2 linked regions of the Homo sapiens genome follow. The protein of the gene in region 2 purifies or fractionates together with the protein of the main gene of each other region. This does not show direct contact. Each region holds a gene or a part of one and is shown on either strand. Other genes may lie near its edges.

Region 1 (3,653 bases), on a different chromosome or scaffold from region 2:
TCAAAGTGATTTTCATATATTGCTAAACCCTTAACATTTTATTTGTGGATAAATGGGGACCATGTATTTGATGAGATATCTTTATTGGTAATATTTCTAGTTTTTTAATATATTTAATAGCTTCCTTTTCTAGCACAGCTGTACCTGTGGCCCAGTAAGAGACAGACTTGAGCCGCCGGTATATTTCAAGGAAGATATTTAATATTCTGCACATTGCTAAACTTTTTCAGCATATTCCCAAGTGCTTTTTAGAAAACTGTTTCGAGTGATGAGGACTACCAGCTAACTTAGATGTCCTATGAAACTGCTGGGTGTGACACTTTTTACATTTTGACACTGAAGACATATATTTACAGCTTGTCTTCCAGTTGTGTCATGATAGATAAAGAAGTATGACAACTAAAATTATTACTTTACTTATTTTCTTACCTTGAAAATATATGTCTTTTTTCTCTCTTAAGGAATGGGGAAAAAGGGTCTGAGCCAGAACCCTTTGAGTGGGCCTGGGAAGAGAACTTCTGTATCTCCTCCTTTAGAGGATGTCTGGGTTGGTTCTGGCATGAGATTTAAAGAAATAATACAATGTTTAGTAATAGAATGTTAAAATCATTGATGCTGTTGTGTAATATCCATTGATTTTTTACAATAGAAGTAGGTGATGTTGACTTTTTTTTTTAATGCTCATGAAAAGTAATAACAACCAGAGTCTGTAGAGTTAGATGTGACTCAGACATATGCAGATTTTAGGACGTGTGTGTGTCTCAGCGGTGCACCTGTGTCCTGGCCTCTGGCACCCTTACTGCCAATTTTGTCCCATTTCTGACCACACAGCACCAATTGCTTGGGAATAGTTCCCATATGTGTGCTGGTTTTTGAACATGGACCTGTGCCCACTAAAAATTGAACAGAGGCCATGTACAGTTTAAATCCAGTACTCCAGAGGTGAAAAAAAGTCAGCTAATCCAGTAAGCTCCAAATGCTGTGTCTTCGTTTTATCTTTCTGAAGACTGGAAAAACAAATGCTATCTCTGAAATGATTCTTGAAGATCTCATTAAGACTTCCCTATTATGTCATTTTCAAAACAAAGCAACTAAAGTTATTTGTCATTGCTACATTTTCAATGAGTATATTTGTAAAAGTTCTTTGCAGTTTTTTTTGGGGGGTGGGGAATGGACATTATAGTGTATTTACAGTTTGTAGTCAAATACTGATTTGCTTTATTCAGGTTTACATAGGTCTTTACAGTTTCCTACTAAAAAAACAAGACAATGTAAACACATACACACACACACACAGTTGTAGCTTACTTGTAAGAATATAGTTCTAGAAATAAAAATTGAATAAACATTTAATGCAAGGCAGACTGCCTTCCAGGAGCTTATACTCTAGCAGTAGAAAATTTGCATTGTCTTTCTCTTCAGCTCTCATGTCTCCTTATTAAATACAGTGTCCTGCAGTATGTGCCAGCCATGTGGTTAACCTTATTAACATATGTGGTTCATCAAATAAGAAAGAGCTTCTATTTTCCTGCAGATGTTATTCATCAACTTTAGATTTTTTTCTTTATTGACTTTAATCTGACATTGGGAAGTTACATATCATTCCTTGTGCCTCAATTTCCTCATCTATGAAATAAAGATGTTAAAGTAGATGATTTATTGGTCTTATCTCTAAAAGTCTGTGAATTTCCACTACCCCCACCCCCTTCCATTTTGGGGGTAATTAATTTTTTTTTACTCATATTTGCTTTGATTTGTTACATACGTGCTCGTTTTTGTTTGCAAATTTTTGGTACATTTTTTGCAAAGTATATTCACCTACATTCTATAAAGCCTGAGGTACTACAGAGTATTTCTGAGCTACTGTTCGTCAGATGTGTTTCTCTCCCTATTGAAAATAGCTCTGTTTTCCAAAACTTTGAGTTAACTGGGTATATAATCTGCTTCATTTCCAGGCTTTTTGAGTGCTCAATTGTATGTTATTTAAGGTTGTCTATTTCACAGAAATCGCTGTCATTTCTTATTTCTAGCCCCTGTTTCTTCAGATTTTACCATTTGCCTTATATAAGGGATTTTCTCAGTTTAAGGTCTCAGGCTAATAGTATTTTAAAATATTGATATTCTAAGAAATGGCTAGTTTTGATGCAACTATATCTGAATTGATTGAATAGCTCCAATTTAGTTAATCAAGAAAATATTTTTCTTCCATGTTACGTGCAAAGATGTAGCTGGTATTTATATCATGTGCCAGTATTTCAACTTGATATACAGTAAATGTAATCTTCTCTTGGCATATCCAGTTGGTAACAATGAGAGAAAGAACTAATGTAAAATTAGATCAGAGTTCCTTTGTAGCTAAGAAAATTTGTTACACTCGATTAGAGCTATATTTAAATAATAACCTGTGTGCAGGAATGGATATTATGCCTCATTGCTAAGTTATGTGAAAACATTGTAGAAACTCTTTCAGGCTTGATTTTGTAGTTTTTTTTGGCTGTTTTCCCATAGAATGACCACTTGTGACATGGCCAACTGGAGAATTTCTCATGGATAAAAATACTATAAAACCAAAATATTGCTTCTTGTATATCATTTAAATACAGATAGTGCCATACATTGAAGGGACTAAAACGTAAGATTTGGCTTCATTTTCAAAATAATTTTTATTTGGTATTGTCACAGTAGCAATAGTAAAATGAAGCAAATAGATTCAAACAAGAAGCATTTTAGGTTTTTTTTTTTCCTTTTGAAAACTTCACAAGATTTATTTTTTGTCACTTCTTGCATTTTACTTATTTTTTGCATATTTTATTCAGGAGTAGGCTTTGATTCATTTTATGTCAATCTAAATGACATCATATGCTGTTTTAATGATTAGCAAGCTATATGCAATGATCTCCAATGTTAACAAAATTCTTTTGCTACTTTTACGTAAGTAATATTTTGGGATGGGGCCAGGTATTTATTATTGTATTAAAATGTCATGAGATTCATTTTATAATGCTCAAAAATAATTTGTATTGGTGAATTCTTTCAAAATCTCTGCCTCAATGTCTTTTAATGTTAAAAAAAAATGTCCTTAGGCCGTGAGCAACACTTAATCCCATATGGAAAACTTCTAGCATTGATAAGAATTTTTGATGATGAGTGATTTTCAAATTACAAAAGAAAAGATTATCTGAAAACATTTTCAAACTTGCCAAAGACCTATTCATTCCTTCAGTATATGTTACATCACAGAGACAATGATCAGTTTTTTAAACTAAATAATAAGTAAAGCCCGAAATACTGTGGCTGACAGATTCTTATTCAGAGCTTAGGTTGCCTTGATGTATAGTTACTTTACCTAAAAGGCTATTTGTATGTAACAGAACTCAGTATCCTCTCTCTATTATGTGTTACAGCCAATTTTTTTTTCTTCTCTTTAAGGTGGTTTAGATTAGAATCCAAACAAGGAAAACGAATCAAAAACAGGGGTGAGATAAAGGTCAATATTCAGTTTATGAGGAACAATATGACCGCAAGTATGTTTGACTTATCAATGAAGGACAAAACCAGATCTCCTTTTGCAAAGTTAAAAGATAAGATGAAGGGTAGAAAAAATGATGGAACATTTTCTGATACGTCTTCTGCAATCATTCCAAGTACTCACA
Region 2 (3,753 bases):
CATGGTTACCAGAACAGATACAATACTCTCAGTAGTTTACAACGGCATTATATTGCTGTCAAACATTGCTTATGCTGTGTGAGTTGGGGAAAACTTATTTCCCCCTCTAAAAAAAATTAAGGCTCAGTTTCCAAAAGATAATTATATCAGTCATTTTTCTGTTTAAGAGACTGGGAAAATTCGGGAATAAAAAGCACAAAGGGGTGGAGGGTGAGGGGTAGCTCCACACACTCTCATTCATTCATACTGAAGTTACTCAATGTGATTTTTTTTTTTTAAGGCTCCTTCTATCTGAAAATGTGTTTGGTTACAAAAACAAACAAATCAGTAGATGGGAGGGGTACTAGGTACAGATCTACAGCATTCAAACAAGGAAAACTAAGCTCTTTGTTACCAGTTGCTGGTTAAAATGTGGTCTACGAGCTGCCTACATATAAATGCGCACACACATTAACTTTGACTCACTTTTCTTTGGCGAAGCTTACTGAATAGTATTTCTCTTCCAACACACTAATGACACTAATTTACATTTCCTTTTGACTTTCAGAGCAGGTGGCCACAAAGTTGTCCCTTTTCCTAAATACAATCCTCCATTTTTCCTTTCAACCTTGCAGTAGACCATAACCATAATGGTCATCTTGCACTGATGTGTAATCTCACCATTTAAGTGACTGAAGAAAGTGGCAAGGCTAATTACAGAAAAAGAGTTTGGGCATTTTTGGAGAATTACCCTATCGATGAGTTCCAAACACACTTTTCAAGCACTTTTTTCTATACAAATATTTCATTCAGTCCACAGTGATGCCATCATTTTACAAAAGCAGAATCTGTTTTAACTCAGTAAACCACCTTACAATCCATGGGGCTAATGTTACAACAACAACAAAAGCCAAAAAGGGCACCTGTAGGTTCTGCCTCTGGCATAAAGAGGTAGAGACAATCATTCTGTAGAAAAGATTAACAATAATAAAAACAAAACAATAAAACAAAACAAAACAAAAAAAGCCATTCCATTTCTAAGGGCTAGTTCTAGATCTAAAGGCTGTCATCCGTCCTCTTAGCTGAGAGATCCATTGCCCACAATCATCTTGCTGTAATTTTTCTGCTGCTCTTCCTTAAAGATGTCCTTCACCTTTGCTCTCTTTAGTCCTCCATCCCTGCAAACAGAAAGACAAATACATAAAAGATACTTTACAGCGGTGATTTAAAAGAGTTAACTTAATAATTACATGCTGCATGATACCATGACGCTTAGGCAGCTGGGATGAAATAAGGGAAAGAACACTGGATTTGGAAACAGGAAGACCCAGGTTTCAGTTTCTGCCCTACCACTTGCCAAATACACATTACTTTGAGGAAGGAACAATCTCTCTGATGTTTGGTTAAAATAAGTAACAATATCCCCAACTCAGTTTCTTTAGAAGTTAAGGGGTGGTGTATTAAATATTTGGATTGGCCAGGCACAGTGGCTCACATCTGTAATCCCAGCACTTTGGGAGGCCAAGGTGGGTGGATCACCTGAGATCAGGAGTTCGAGACCAGCCTGGCCAACATAGTGAAACCCTGTCTCTACTAAAAATACAAAATTAGCTGGGCATGGTGGTGTATGCCTATAATCCCAGCTACTTGGAAGGCTGAGGCAGGAGAATCGCTTGAACCCGGGAGGTGGAGGTTGCAGTGAGCCGAGATCACGCCATTGCACTCCAGCCTGGGCAACAAGAGCAAAACTTCGTCTCAAAAACAAACAAACAAACAAACAAAAACTGGATTGAAACAAGGATTATTAAAACTAGGATTATTTCTCTATATTATTCCTTAAGGAAAACAAAATACTGGTTTTTCGTCTACCTATGTCTTACTAGAAAACCACAGGAAAATTTAAAATATACACAGAAGAAATGGTAAGGGTACTGTATATGTGTGGGTAAATTTCTTAAAGATAAATGATTATTCAAAAAAGATAAATCATTGTTCAAATATAACCCTATCTATGTTTAACAAGTTATATTTTCTTTTTTTTTTTTTTTTTTTTTTGAGACAGAGTTTTGCTCTTGTTGTCCAGGCTGGAGTGCAATGGCACAATCTTGGCTCACCGCAACCTCCACTTCCCGAGTTCAAGTGATTCTCCTGTCTCAGCCTCCTGAGTAGCTGGGATTACAGGCATGCACCAACAGGCCCGGCTAATTTTGTATTTTTAATAGAGACAGGGTTTTTCCATGTTTGCCAGGCTGGTCTCGAACTCCCAACCCCAGGTGATCTGCCTGCCTCAGCCTCCCAAAGTGCTGGGATTACAGGCGTGAGCCACCGTGCCCGGTCTAACAAGTTGTATTTTCATTCAAAGCACTATATTTCCAGCATTTATAATCATTTATATTCCAAAACAGATTCCGAATAAAATAACAAAATCATAAGTTGCATTCAACCAGAAGTGCCTATGTAAGCAGCATTCCTTCATTCAGAGCCTGTAAATCTTTGAACTCTCTCCAGGGTGCCTGCCTGGGTATAAGAACTCTGCATGCTTTTCCTTCTTTGGACTACACATAAAGAAACAACAAACTGGAGTTGCTGGGAGTAGTTTGGACTATCATAGGTCACTATCTGGCTCCTAATCTAAAGTTTTAGATTTTAACTGCTAGGAGAGCATGGGCTGAGAACTTGCTTACTTTATACTCTGACTGTTTAATTTTAACCCAGTTAAGCATGCATGTTTACCAAATGCTTTCTGATGATGGTGAATGATCGTAGGTTAGCCAGTGAACTCAATGCCATGTGGACAGAACTTGACCTCCACAGAGACACCGGCTTGAGACAAATGCAATGTTCTGGCTTCTAGACTCAAATCTAAGACACAGCAATAAGTCCTCAACTTAAAAACAGACTGTGATCCACAAATCATCCAGTGGGTCAGTTGTGGGAGGTTTTCATGAAACAAGATTATAAATTGTTGTTAGGTCCACAGAATTGTCCACATAAGCCTCTTTTATCCAAATGAGCTTCTTCTATTAACAGCACTTACCTGAATTCTGAATAGTGAGAACTAAGGAAACTAAAGAAATAAGAAAGGCCTTTCTCCTTTCACAAGATCCAAGCCCAAAACAGGCAAAAATGTAAGTCTTGAGCAATCTGACATCATTTTGTACAATTCTCCTTCCCAAGCACCCAGTAAACCTCATGCTGCTCTAAGCACTTAAACTGTGATTTGCCACCCCTTAGAGACTTCAAAATTTTATCCAATTCCCCTTTGCAATGGCAGCAGGTCTTAGTTCTTAAGAGAGGGAGCAGCCATATATAAAAGCCAGTTTAAGATCATAAAATTATATTTTCACTCAATCTATGAAAAAACAATCTAGATATGTTAATTCATAACCAATAGGTACATGACAAATAAATCTAGAAAGGCAATGAGGCCACTTTCTTTTTTTTAAGAGGCTAGGTAATTAAAAGTAATTTTATTATACAATTGCATATGGCCTGAAAAAAGGACACTGGACAATTCTGAGGATCATTTTTGATGGATTTAGTTCAGCCACTCTGATGGAGAGTCTGTACTTGGCTGACTCCCCTAGGTTGTTCTTGTCTCTCAAGGCTTTCTTCCCTTCCTGTGTCTGAGACTACAGACACTGACTTCAGGATAGAAGCAGGAGGGCTGAGTGTCAGGTAAGATAAAGAGTGAGTAAAGAGTTTTAAATAAGGAAAAGGAACCCAGTTGCACGTATGACCATGGGTTATAGGACATCTGTGGACCAAGGTCGT

The links. The genes of interacting proteins can lie anywhere in the genome.
Region 1: the proteins of GPAT3 (region 2) and RAB11FIP2 purify together in Homo sapiens (affinity purification with mass spectrometry; one large-scale study listed by BioGRID and IntAct). This does not show direct contact.

What each region holds. Positions count from the first base shown.
Region 1 is NC_000010.11:118,040,342-118,043,994, reverse strand, and holds part of RAB11FIP2 (rab11 family-interacting protein 2), read left to right. Parts: intron 1-3,429; coding exon 3,430-3,653. UniProt on the Homo sapiens protein: A Rab11 effector binding preferentially phosphatidylinositol 3,4,5-trisphosphate (PtdInsP3) and phosphatidic acid (PA) and acting in the regulation of the transport of vesicles from the endosomal recycling compartment (ERC) to the plasma membrane.
Region 2 is NC_000004.12:83,602,072-83,605,824, reverse strand, and holds part of GPAT3 (glycerol-3-phosphate acyltransferase 3), read right to left. Parts: intron 1,158-3,753; coding exon 1,058-1,157; 3' UTR 1-1,057. UniProt on the Homo sapiens protein: Converts glycerol-3-phosphate to 1-acyl-sn-glycerol-3-phosphate (lysophosphatidic acid or LPA) by incorporating an acyl moiety at the sn-1 position of the glycerol backbone.